Homo sapiens: one gene and its partner. The protein of the gene in region 2 interacts with the protein of the main gene of each other region in a pairwise test. Each region holds a gene or a part of one and is shown on either strand. Other genes may lie near its edges.

Region 1 (7,037 bases), on a different chromosome or scaffold from region 2:
AACTCCTGAGCTCAAGTGATCTGCCCGCCTCGGCCTCCCAAAGTGCTGGGATTATAGGTGTGAGCCACCGCGCCCAGCCCACATCTTTATTAAACTCTCCAGAAACTCCCCAGTTTAAGAGCATTCTCTGTGTCCTTCTAGGATTCTGATGGATACAATACATGCATACATTACTTTTTCAAAAACATTAGAAAATTGTTTTCAGAAAGCAAGGCAGATGTGTAGGTTCAGAAGCATGTGTTGTCACCTGGACGATCTAACCAGTCCCTAAGCTGAGACGAGGTGGAGAAGTGTGGCTTACTTGCTCATTAACATCATCCATCCAGAGGCGTAATGTTTTCCGTATAGTTGGGTAATTGTTTCTGCCCCCCGTCTGCGGTTTCAGCAGGCCGGCCTTCTCCAGGTTGTGTAAGGTCAATATGTGCTCATAGCCGTATGTCTGCAAGGGAAGTCATTTGGCCTTGATGTCAGATCAGGAAAAGGATTTCTGCAATTTTCAAAGAAGGGCACTTCCAACAAATCAATTTGGTTTGTACTGCAGGACATGTTACCAAAGTCCAGCAATGTTAGTGGATGGGCACAGAGGACAGGGTGGAGGGATGAAACTTGTCCTAAAACTGCTTGCCTGTTACTATTAATTCAGCTCACTGTTTCAAAGAGAAATTTAAAATTTTTACTTTAAAGTCAGAATTTATGGACCCAATCTAAGCAAGCATCAAATAAATGATAGTATATTTTTATAAGGGATATAATTAGCTCTAAAAAAGAGTAAGGCATATGTATACATCCTGATAAGAAAGGTCTCCAGAATATATTAAAAAAAAAATAACATGTAGAGTAGGACATTATTTCTATTTTTAAAAAGTAGCCAAGGTCTGGGCATGCTGGCTCACACCTGTAATCCCAGTACTTTGGGAGGCCGAGGCGGGCCAATCACTTGAAGTCAGGAGTTTGAGACCAGCCTGGCCAACATGGTGAAACCCTGTCTCTACTAAAAATTAAAAAATTAGCTGGGCCTGGTGGCATGTACCTGTAATCCCAGCTACTCGGGAGGCTGAGGCAGGAGAATCGCTTGAACCCAGGAGGTTACAGTGAGCCAAGATTGTGCCACTGCACTCCACTCTGGGCAACAGGGTGAGATACTGTCTCAAAAAATAAATAAATTTTAAAAAGTAGCCAACACTTATAAAATACTTTCTATGAGCTGGGCACTGTTCTGGTCTAAGCACTTACATACATTAACTCAGTCATCCCGGCTCTAACCCCATGACGTAGGTATCATTACCTTCATTTTACAGAGATGTTTAAATAACCTGCCTAAAGTCACACAGCTAGTGAAGAGCAGAGCTGAAACCTGGATCCAGCCAGTCTTGCTCTGAAGTCTGTGTATGGAAACATTCTGTCTAAATGCAAAGAATGGAGTTTGGAAGGAAGCAAATCAGACTGCTGACACTGGTCACATCTGGGGAGGGAAACTGGGGTATGAGCAAGGTACAGGGGACGTTCACATTTTGCTCTGTGTACTTCTGCATTATTTGACTCTTACACAAGGATACATAACTTAAAAAAAGACAAAAACAAAAAATTAATGAGCACTCAATTTTAATAAAAATGTACTTAACTGTCACTGGTAACAGCAAATAAATACTACCTGAGTCATTTTCAAACAAAGGGGAGACTTTTCAAAAACAAGAGTGGCCTTTTCCTTATTATAAGTAACACAGGCTTAATTTAAGTAAACCTGCTAAGCAACTGTCATCAGAAATTTGCAGAAAGTTCTTTTCCTCCGTGGTATAACTGCGGAGTTAAGAACATGGGCGCTACACTCAAATTGCCTGGTTTACCACTGGCTGTGCCACTTACCAGCCAGGTAACCTTGGGTGAGTTACCTAAACTAGTCTGTGCCTCAGTTTTTCATCCATAAAACTGGGACGATAGCAGTCTCTAACTCACAAGGCTGTTGTGAATATTTGTTGTTGTTGTTATGGTAACTACAGTTAACAAGGAAGTATTGTGAAGATGAAACAAATGAATGCACATAAAGTTTTTCTTTTTTTTTTTTTTTTTTTTGAGACGGAGTCTCGCTCTGTCGCCCAGGCCGGACTGCGGACTGCAGTGGCGCAATCTCGGCTCACTGCAAGCTCCGCCTCCCGGGTTCACGCCATTCTCCTGCCTCAGCCTCCCGAGTAGCTGGGACTACAGGCGCCCGCCACCGCGCCCGGCTAATTTTTTGTATTTTTAGTAGAGTCAGGGTACAGAGCCACCGCGCCCGGCCTATAAAGTTTTTCCAATAGATCCTAGCACATAGTAAATGCTCAAGAAATGTTACCTATTATTATTATTTTTTACTTTTTGTAAACAAGCTATGTTGCCTAGGCTGGTTTTGGACTCCTGGGCTCAAGCAATCCTCCTAACTCAGCCTCCTGGGTAGCTGGGACTGCAGACACAGCCACCATGCCTGGTAAATTTTTGTATTTTTTTTGTAGAGACAGGGTCTTGCTATGTTGCCAGGCTGGTCTTGGCCTCCAGCGATCCTCCTGCCTCAGCCCCACAAAATATTGAGATAACAGAGGTGAGCCACTGTGCCCAGCCTGTTAGCTATTATTATCACACAAATACAATAAACAGTGATGGCTACCAAGACCAATTCCTCTAGGTGTTAAAAAATTTATACAACAGTCGTTACAAGATACCAAAATGGCAGCTTTGTAATTTTTATTTTTTTTAATTTTAAATTTTTTATTATTATTTTTTGAGACAGAGTCTCACTCTGTTGCCCAGGCTGGAGTGCAGGGGCATGATCTTGACACACTGTAACCTCCGCCTCCTGCGTTCAAGCGATTCTCCTGCCTGATCCTCTCAAATAGCTGGGACTACAGGTGCATGCTACCATGCCTGGCTAATTTTTGTATTTTTAATAGAGATGGGGGTTTCACCATGTTGGCCAGGCTGGTCTCAAACTCCTAACCTCAAGTGATCCACCTGCTTTGGCCTCCCAAAGTGCTGGGATTACAGGCGTAAGCCACTGTGCCCGGCCCATGAAGTATTTTTTAAAAAGATGCTGTCCCCCTTGGCAAATTAATAATTTAAAAATATACTCACCTGGAGAATCTCTCTTTTGTAATAATCCAAAACTTTTTGTTTGAGCCCACTATTACACACGGATTGGAGGCAAACTAGTCTTAACACCTTGATCAACGAGTGCTTTTGGGCGATACAATCCTCAATGTAATTGTTGACCTGGAAATAAAGTAGCATACATATACATATACATTTACATATACATACACACACACACACACACACACACACACACACACACAATACATGGTTTAGGAACTTAACTTGATGTTTATTATTATTTTTCAAAGTCCAATAAAGGAGATACGTGGGAAAATGAGTTATTTTTCCACAGTCCCTAACCCTTCCCCGAAATAGCTCTGCTAGCCCCAGCCACACACACACCCTGGCCACCACACACACACACACACCCCACACACACATACATACATACACACACACACACACACACACACACCCCCCAGTGATCAGGCCAAGTCACTGGAGCCCAAGGCCGCTGAGAATACAATTGGTCACTCCATATGCCTGTCTGGACACGTCTGTCTCTAAGGACACGCTTCTGAGAGGCTACCAGATGTCTACTCCATTTCAATAGTATCAACAACTAATCTAGCAAAAAGTATCAGTAATTGTTTTATGTTAGGAATTTTCATAAAGTGAATAATTTAAAATTTGTTAATAGAGCTATTTAAAGGAGTTATATAAGAAACTCTTTCAAAAGAGCAAATACCTTATCTAATACAGTCTTAAAAAGATTTGATTTTAGGGGCCAGGTCTCATGTTGCCATGTATGGCAGAAAGTGTCTTGCACAGAATAATGTTAAATATCTGTTACTTGATAAAATCTACACTTGCACATTTTGCATTTGCTCTTAAAAATATTTAAGTGGCCGGGCGCAGTGACTCACGCCTGTAATCCCAACAGTTTGGGAGGCCAAGGTGGGCGGATCACAAGGTCGGAGATCGAGACCATCCTGGCTAACATGGTGAAACCCCGTCTCTATTAAAAATACAAAAAATTAGCCAGGTGTGGTGGTGAGCGCCTGTAGTCCCAGCTACTCGGGAGGCTGAGGCAGAATGGCGTCAACCCGGGAGGCGGAGCTTGCAGTGAGCAGAGATGGCGCCACTGCACTCCAGCCTGGGCAACAGAGCAAGCTGGGTGACACACAGTGAGACTCCGTCTCAAAAAAAAAAAAAAAAAAAAAAAAAAAAAAGGCAAGGCATGGGAATCAAAGCAATTGGTTTTCTGGCTATAATCTGAGGTTTAATAAGCTTTCAATTACTTGTTAAAGAGGTTTTTTTGTCCACATACCTTATCAGTGTCTATTCCAGACATAAACTCCTGTTCCACGGTTAATTTATCAAAAAAGTCTTCAGAAGCTAAAATGAAATTAGCAAATTTGCAACTTAGAAATTAAATGTTAATTTACTTGAGTGGCATGCTTTTATACACAGAGCACGATTCAGAAACTAGACATGTGGCTGGGCACGGTGGCTCACACCTGTAATCTCAGCACTGTAGGGGGCCGAGGTGGGTGGATCACTTCAGGCCAGGAGTTCAAGACCAGCCTGACCAACATGGCCAAACCCCATCTCTACCAAAAACACAAAAATTAGCTGGGTATGGTGGCACACACCCGTAGTCCCAGCTACTCGGGAGGCTAAGGCACAAGAATCACTTGAGGCGGGGAGGCGGAGGTTACAGTGAGCCAAGATCACACCATTGCTCTCCAGCCTGGGCAACAGAGCGAGACTCTGTCTCAAAAGAAAAGAAACCAGACATCATGCAAAAAAGCAAGCAAGCAATAAGTTCAAGTCATCACCTGAAGAAAATCTTTTAGGAAACATGGAAAACGCTAGGCCTCTGCACTCCTAAGTTACACTAGATACAGTCGACAAGTGCACTCTTTTGTATCCTTAGGATTTCAGTACAGACCCCAGAATGAGCGTCAGTATGAATGAAAGCTAATTTCTCAAGAACATTTCATTTTCATCATTAGGTTCAACCCAATTTCAACTGGTTTCCACTCCTATGAACAGGGAAACAAAGGACTGATTTTCCGATAACTGTGATTTACTTAAGATTCGAAGTATACTTCATAAAACAATCTCCTACTCAGCTTTTACAGCCCTGTGTTGTAACAAACAAACAAACTCATGTCTGCTTTAATAGATGTCTTCTGAGCTCTTTCAAAATACTCAACATATACTCTTTGTACCAATTCTGCACAGAATATTCAAGGGAAGAACATGCGCCAATAAGTAATCCTTCAAAAAAGGAAAAAAGCTGCTGGCCGCGGTGGCTCATGCCTGTAATCCCAGCACTTTGGGAGCCAAGGCAGGCGGATCACCTGAGGTTGGGAGTTTGAGACCAGCCTGACCAACATGGTGAAACACCATCTCTAGTAAAAATAGAAAATAAGCCAGGCGTGGTGGCAAGTACCTGTAATCCCAGCTACTTGGGAGGCTGAGGCAGGAGAATCACTTGAACCCGGGAGGCAGAGGTTGCGGTGAGCCAAGATTGTGCCATTGCACTGCAGCCTGGGCAACAAGAGTGAAACTCCGTCTCAAAAAAAAAAAAAAAAGAAAAAAAGCTAGACTAAAAAAATTAACCATCTCAGATTATGATGGCAAACTTATGGATAATTTTTTTCTCTTATCTACATTCCAAATATTTTTCATATAAATGATAATGAAAAAATTTGAGTTAAAAAATGGACCCTTCCTCTCTTTCTCTTTTTCTTTCTTTCGTTATTTCGAGATGGAGTCCTGCTCTGTCGCCCAGGCCGGAGTGCAGTGGTGCAATCTTGGCTCACTGCAACCTCTGCCTCCCGGTTCAAGCAATTCTCCTGCCTCAGTCTCCTGAGTAGCTGGGATTACAGGTGCCCGCCACCACACCTGGCTAATTTTTGTATTTTTAGTACAGATGGTGTTCCACTATGTTGGCCAGGCTGGTCTCGAATGCCTGACCTCAGGCGATCCACCTGCCTCGGCCTCCCAAAGTGGTGGGATTACAGACATGAGCCACCTCGCCCAGTCTTTTTTTTTTTTAATGGAGTCTCGCTCAACCAGGCTGGAGTGCAGTGGCGTGATTTCAGCTCACTGTAACCTTTGCCTCCAGGGTTCATGTGATTCTCATGCCTCAACCTCCTGAGTAGCTGTAACTACAGGCATGTGCCACCATGCCCAGCTAATTTTTGTATTTTTAGTAGAGACAGGGTTTCGCCATGTTGCCCAGGCTGGTCTTCAATTCCTGGACTCAAGTGATCTGCCTGCCTCAGCCTCCCGAAGTGCTGGGGTTACAGATGTGAGCCATCATGCCTGGCCAACAAATGGAACATTCTTTTTGTTTTGTTTTTCGAGATGGAGTCTCACTCTGTCACCCAGGCTGGAGTGCAGTGGCGTGATGTCGGCTCACTGCAACCTCCGCCTTCCAGGTTCAAGCAATTCTCCTGCCTCAGCCTCCCAGGTAGCTGGGACTACAGATGCATACCACTGTGCCTGGCTAATTTTTGTATTTGTAGTAGACATGGGGTTTCATCATGTTGGCCAGGCTGGTCTCAAACTCCTGACCTCAAGTGATCTGCCCGTCTTGGCCTCCCGAAGTGCTGGGATTACAGGCATGAGCCACCATGCCCCGCCTGGAATATCCTTAACTATTAACATATGTATACTTCATTAACACTGAGAAGAACACGTGGTATTAAGACAGAGCTGACTCTCCCGAAGAGGCATTGTGGTGTTGATGACCTAGGTGTCAAACGTTGTATGTGCAAGTAGCCCCAGACTGAAACAATCATTACAAAGGATACTCACTAGTGACATCTTTGATCAATTCTGCAATTGAGGTATGGTTTGCAAGCGAGCCCCTTGCTGCCTGCATGTGGGGCAACTGGGAAACAAACTGCTTGATCTCCCCCACGGTCTTAGCATTGTGTCTTTCCTGAAATAAACAA
Region 2 (7,000 bases):
TATAGTCCCTCGAGATGGAAAACTTTGGCAGGTAGAGCTCACCTATCTCTCTAGAAAACGAGAAAAAAAAAGTATCTGAACCTCTGCTGATCAGTACCTACCTGCCTCCCACCTCGCAGCATGGTCTTCCCTGGTTTCCTCTACAGTCACCCCCTTCTGATTGGAAAATAAATAATCTGTTCCTCAATTTCTTAACCCCTGTCTTTACTCTTCTTATTCATTAATTATTCATTCAGATCTGCAAGTGTGAAAGTCTCCAGGCAGCACACCAAGCCTGGAGTTGTGGCCCTGCTCGAGCCTGGCCCTGCCCTTTCCCTGCAGCTTGCAATGCAGTTGAAGCACCTTCACACCAGCAGGGACCCCTGAGTGTGTTGAGAGCCTGGGCTGGGCCAGCTGCAGTGGCTGCATGGCAGCCTGCTTCACGGGGGCACCAGGAGGGCTTCCTGTAGGAGGTGGTGTTGAGGCTGAGTCCCAAAGGCAGGAAAGGAGCTAGCTAGGTGAAGAGGTGGGCAGGAGGCAGGTGGAAGAACCTGGAAGAAGGTGGGAGCAGGAGGAGTTGCTCCACGGGGCGGTGGGTGATCTCAGTGTTTCAGGGAGGAGGGTAGTGAGGGATGAGGTGGGCCAGGAGCCAGAGGCAGGTCAAAAAGGGCCTGGGGGCCTCTGAAGAGTCTGATTGTGTTAGAAGAGCTTTGGGGATCCTGAAACAATCAATTGGAGGTTCCCATCTTGCCTCACCAGTGGGCACTGTCCCTCAAGCCAGGTGTGGGCTGGCATAGAGCAGGTAGCAAGCTCCTAGAGGCCCAGGTCACACCTGCCACCTGCAAACTCCCCCTCCCTTAGTTTATAGCCCTCTTAAGATGCCTGTCACTGTCTGCCTGGTCTTACAATTATACAGGAGGCTGTGTCTTCCATTAAACTCTGAGTCCCCTGAAGGAGGAAGGTGTCCTATTTCTATTTTTATTCATTCATTCATGTGTTTGTCCGTTCATTCCATCCTTCATTCAACAAGTATCTATTGAGCATTCTCTGTGGGCCAGGAGTGTGTGGACACATGTTTCCTCAGCATTTTGTAAATCAAAAGTGTTTGGAGAATTCTTTCCACTCAAAATTATCTGCTGAGCCCCTGCTCCCTGGTGGCTATTAGGTGCTAAAGGAGGAAGGAGTCTGGGAGTAAACGGATGGGTTGGGTAGGACCCCCACGTTCTGGGGTCTCCTGGGATCTAGAGTGAGGAGGGGCTGAGGGTCAGGCAATCCCGAGAGGTGTCCGGCCTTCTGGACAGTGGTTGGGGCAGGGGTTGCAGCCTCAGGTTAGTGTTGAAGCAGCTCCCTTGCCCTTAGTGGTTTATTATGGCTTCAACATACAATACCTCACCGGATTCTCACAATCACCCAGTGAAAACAGGGGTGGTGGGGAAAGGACATTCCTTTCTCTTCAGGAGGTAGCTGAGCTCCAGAGAAGAGCAGCGACCTGCTCCAGGTCACACCAGCCACCACGGTCTGAACCCAAGGCTGGTGCTCCTTCCTCTCTACCCCACACAGCTGCCCACATGCACTCCCTGGGCCCACTGCAGGGTCTGGGCCCGGAACTACTGCTCCTCCTCACTGTGTCCCCATGAAATCGGTCAGCTCAATTCCGTGTGTCCCAGCAAGTTCCTCTACCCTCAGATTTATCCAGAACTCAATGACTTCTCACATGCATGGCTCCCTCCTGGATCCCAGCCACAGTGGGCTCCCACCTCATGTCTGTGCCTGGTTCCTGCGGGTGTCACTGACTCCATACCTGCTCTACAGTTATTCTCCTCTCAGCAGCCAGGATTAGTCTTTTAAAACAACACTCGGATCGCAGCACTCCTCCAAACCTCCTGATGGCTCTCCATTTCACACACAGGAGGAAGGGCAAGGTTTTCTAGGGGTCTACGTGGCCCTACCTAAGCTGCTCCACCCCTTTGGGGACTCCTGACCTCTCTCAACTCTCTCCTCACTCTCTCTGCTCCTGCACCGTGGTGGAGCTGAAGTACACAGGCAATGCCAGCGCACTCTTCATCCTCCCTGATCAAGACAAGATGGAGGAAGTGGAAGCCCAGCTGCTCTGGCCTGACTCTTCTTTGACCACATCAAGCTCACTTCCACCTCAGAGGCCTTGCACTGACTGTTCCCTCTGCCAGGAATGCTTTTCCCTAATATACCAACATGACTCCACCCCTCCCCTCTGTTATATGGATGCTCAAACATCACCTAATGGCTACTCTATCTAAAATCACAAACTAACACGAGTTCCAGTTTTCCTGATCCTTTCATCCTCCTCTACTCAATTTCTATCCCCTTACTCAATTTCTCACCTTCTAATATATCACGTAACTTATTTGTTATATTTATTTATTGCCTGTCCCCTCTCCAATTACAAATTAAGCTCCAGGAGGGCAGGGAATCTTGTGTTTTATTTGCTGATTTACTCTCAGGGTGCAAATTAGTGTCTGACACATAGTAGGTGCTCAATTAATCATGCAGCAAATGCTGAGAGAATGAATAAATACAGTGGTTCACCAGTGCAGAACTGATTCTCAGAGTCCATCTCACTGCAGCCCTCAACTGATCACAATTCCTTCTGTTTCTCTCTCCCTTCAAGAGATTGAGACCAGGAGAAACCATGCATGAGTGTTTGGGACTGTGCAGAAGATTTCTCATGACTTAGAACATGCTGGAGTCAGAGGAAGCCTCAGCCCCTTGTCCTGTCTGATGTCATTGTCTTAAAGAAGAAAAAGAAAAATCAAGCCCAAAGCCATGTAGGCAGCATAGGGCAAAGTAAGTGTAAATTCCACCTGTCCCTGTATGAGTTCTCCCACCACCATGCCCTTGTCCCTGGACATTGGTGAGACCTTGACGTGGAGAGATGTGGGGTCTTTGGGGGCCAGGAAGAATCACCTGAACTCCAGAGAGTCTCTCCACCGCTTCAGGGTCTCTGGGAGCAGCATGGCTTCCACTTCCTCCATCTTGTCTTGATCAGGGAGGATGAAGAGTGCGCTGGCATTGCCTGTGTACTTCAGCTCCACCACGGTGCAGGACAGCTCCTCGTCCCGGAAGTAAGGTATAGTCAGGTGATGCAAACTCATCATGGGCACCATTACCCACTTTTTCTTGCTCAAGTAGAACCTTGACTGATGAGTATCTTGGGGGTCAAAGGGCATCTCCCATTTGGCTGAAGGTGGAGCAAGCAGTTGGAGAAGGTGTGAGTGCAAGGGTCGCCCTGCTCGACCCTGCTTCCGCAGCAGTGGAAGTGCCCAGAGTCCCTCATAGGAGGGACCCTGCTTTGGTTTAGAGAAGTAGCTTGGCAAGAGTAAAAGTTATTGGGGGTGAGGGAGAGCCCAGCAGGCTTGGATTGGGAAAAGGGCCACAAAAGAAAGACCTAGTTCCTTGTGCTAAATGAGAAATCAATAGGAACCAGGGAATAAGGAGTGCAAGAGAGAAAGAAGGTTTAGGGAAAGTGGGGGAAAGAGGCATGACAACATGTGGGAGGCTGGTGCCTGAGGAGAAATGGGACAGCCTTTGTTCCATAAAAGGAAAAATGTCTCATTAGCAATTATTACTCACTGGTATTACAGGGATGTGAACATATAACAGTGGCTTGTGGGAGGGCTTTGGGTGGAAATAAGAGGAAAGAGACTGGGTTCTGTATGTGAGTTGGTGAGGGCAGACAGAAGAGATGCCAATCAGTGTGAATGAGGGGAGGAACAGGAAGAACCTTAATGGAAGATAGAACTCAGAGCCAGGAGAGACCATGGGAATAAAAGCCTAGGGACACTTGTGACATCTTAGAGGATAGCGGTGTTGGACATCACAAAAGCCATGAGCTGGCTATGGTCCTTAGCTCATATCTAGCTCATGTCCACCTCTACAGACCATGAATATTCAGCTAAGATTTGCCCTGGATTCAGTGTCTGTCAGGCTGAGGATTCAACTGTGGGTGTTCTGACTCTGAGGCTGCCTAGGCTCTCAGTGTTGCAAAGGTAAAATTCCATGAAACTGCCTCTGGTACCTCTAGCTATCACAAACCTGAAATGCAGCCTGACTCCTAGCCAGGCTGACATAACTCCTCTCACTAAAGGCCTATTTACCATAGTAAAGAGAAAGAGAAAATCTTGAAAGAGGTAGAGGTAGAGGCAGAGGGAGGAAAACTCCACCTTATCTAAAAAGGAATAAGGATGAAAATGACAGCAGACTTCTCATCAGAAACTATGCAAGCAAGGGAAGAATGGAGTAAAATATTTAAAATGTTGAAAATTCCATGAAACTCATTCTTTGGGAATCATGACATAGGCCCATGATTCGCACGCATTTAGTTGGGTACAATTATTTTCCTCCCCTAGAACAGGGGTCAGGAAACTATAGCCTGTAAGCCAATACAGCCATAGCTTATTTTTGTGTGTACCTAAAGCTAAGAATGGTGCTTATATTTTTCAAAGGTTGTAAAAAAAATGAAGAGGAAAGAGAAGATGAAGAAGATGCAGAGGAGGAAGTCAAAAAGAAGAATCTGCCCTCATGTGGACCACACAGCCTAAAATACATACTACTAGGCCCTTTATGGAAAAAAAATTGTCAATCCTTTCTCTAGGTTGTGGGCTCCACAATCTTTCACCTCCATTCTTGGTTTTAGGAGATGCTTGGTAAAAGCTCATAAAGTCACAAACGGCTTTACTTTAGGGGTTAAAATGAGGGAGCAAAAGGAATTTTCAAATGGGCCCAGGTCAACTTTGAATGTTTAATTATTTGCTTTTCTGGACGGCATGTCTCCTACCTAACAAATGGCAATACCACCATCCACCTTTCAGAGCCGCTGCGAGAATTAAACGAGGTATTGCATGTGAATGGCTGGTGAGAGTAGCTGCTCAATAAATGGGAGCTTCTTTCCTTTCTTTCTTTATTTTGGTTTTTCTTTCTGTAATTGCAATGAGAGCCAGCTTCTGGGTGGCCCTACATTCTCTTGTGCCCTCATCTTCCTTCTTGACACTTCCCCACCTTTGGGCTTTCTAGGACCAAAATAACTGTCCATCTTTCCTTTCCCCTCCCCAAAGACCATCTCAGCTTCTCTGGTCCCTGCAGCCTCCCAACATGGAATGACTGGGGACAAATGTAATTGTAAAGATCCCTTGGAGAAAGGACCCATCTCAGGGTAGGAGATATTTCAGTTGAACAGGTGTCCCCGTTACCAATTGCAGCAGCCATTCAGGGGCTTCTGTGGCCTCCATGTGAGGGCAGTGCCATGGAGCACCTTCCCATATTACCCAGGGCACCGAGCTCCTTTGGGGCCTTTCAGCTGGCCAGATCTCCAGCATGGGTCCCTGCCAGAAAGATGGGCTGCCTCTGGGGACCCTGACTGCTGCCTTGTATGCCAGAATGGGGAGAGAGATAGGTTTGGTGGATGAAATCACCACCCAAGCTCTACAAGCCTTTAAATCTTCTCACATCTGCTCCCATCTCCCCCCATTTCTGTCTGCCAGCCACCAAGTTTTCCAATTTTGCCTCCTTAACATCTTCTGACATCCTCAGCTGTTCAACTGAGGGCCCGAATGTCTGGTTAGTCTAGTGTCTTTAGTATCTGATCTCTGCTTGACTCAACTTTCTCTCTGCTGTAACGGCCTTCGCTTCTTATTCTATCTGGATTTAAGAGAAAAGACGAAAACCGTTTTCTAGGGGAAACCTTCCTTTCTTGAATTCCCATCTTCTGCCCCTGGTTGGATGCCCCCACCCCCTTACTTTCAGCTGAATACATAGTTCTAGCATCACTGGGTGAGTCAATCCTTGCATGCTCTTGGGTCCAGTGGGTGCAATGGAAGAGGAAGAGCAGAAAGGGAGGGAACAAGCACTCCAGGGTTCTGAGCTGGGACTGTCTCAGCCTGAAGCTCATGCATGCTCGGTCCCCTCCACCTTCCACAGGGCTGCCCCAGCAGTGACCAAGCCCCGTCACATACACTGTATGTAAACCAGGCTGAGGCAGGGAGCAAAACTGGCACCTGGAGAGTGAGGAGAGGTCAACAGAGGAAGGGGAGGGGCCCTGCAGGTCTCCACTCCAGGAGGACCAGAGCACTGAACAATGAGGGGGGTGGGAGCTTCCAGGGGAGGCTGGAGACATGGGGCCACCTCCACTGCCCACCTGTTTACCACCTGCCTGTTTCCCATTGTTAGAGGCAGGTGGGGAGGGGAAAGCTAGGCTGGCTACTGTGTCCTGGAGGGGAGAGTCCTAGCATAGGGCTAGGTAGTAGGAGGCGAGAACATGGGAAACTCAGAGAACAAATGGCACGTGAGGCGTGGAGTAGTCTTAGAGGGAGATCTGGATCCACGCCTTCATTTACAGATGAAAACCCAGGCCCAGGAGGGGAAGTGGCTTGCCCAGGAATCAACCAACAGCTTCCAAGCAGGACTCTGCCTCCAAGCAGCTCATGTCTCCTAAGCACCTTTCCACCCTCTGGCTCAGTGATCACTCTTTGTGTCCCTATCTCTTTTTTTGTCCCCATCTGGACTGTGGGCTCCAGGAGGCAAAAGCTACCGGCTTGCACTCTGCCCCTTCGGAGCTTGCAGGCTGAGGTTTGCATTGGTTGAGTTTCTATCAATGGGATTGGGCACTGGACCAGTTAGAATCTGGCAAAGGGTCATGTTTTGTATACTGCCCACCCTTGAGGCTCTTCCCCAGATGGGAACAATGCCATTTCTGCCCTCATTTGTTATGTGTCAGTGACATATTTTTTAAAATAATTAAAGATGATAGCAGAGTAGAATCATAGAATCTTGGAAGTGGCCAGGCTCCTTGGGGATTATCTTGCCCTGTGAAGATGGCCCCAGCCCCACCTGGCCACCTCCAGACACCAAGGCCCCTGGCTGGAATGTGCTCCTCCCACATGTGCAGGGCAGGAGCCCCAGGTGCATCCAGACAGAGGGACTTCCTGGCCTAGTCTAGCAGCACCCCTGCAAGGAGGGAGCTCTAGCTCCTACGCGCCCTGGAGTGGTT

The links.
Region 1: the proteins of SERPINA3 (region 2) and VPS33A interact in binary tests that used the Homo sapiens proteins (3 or more experiments, as listed by UniProt).

What each region holds. Positions count from the first base shown.
Region 1 is NC_000012.12:122,235,485-122,242,521, forward strand, and holds part of VPS33A (vacuolar protein sorting-associated protein 33A), read right to left. Parts: intron 7,025-7,037; coding exon 6,898-7,024; intron 4,462-6,897; coding exon 4,394-4,461; intron 3,241-4,393; coding exon 3,103-3,240; intron 440-3,102; coding exon 302-439; intron 1-301.
Region 2 is NC_000014.9:94,615,391-94,622,390, reverse strand, and holds part of SERPINA3 (alpha-1-antichymotrypsin precursor), read right to left. Parts: intron 3,197-7,000; coding exon 2,923-3,196; intron 51-2,922; coding exon 1-50. UniProt on the Homo sapiens protein: Although its physiological function is unclear, it can inhibit neutrophil cathepsin G and mast cell chymase, both of which can convert angiotensin-1 to the active angiotensin-2.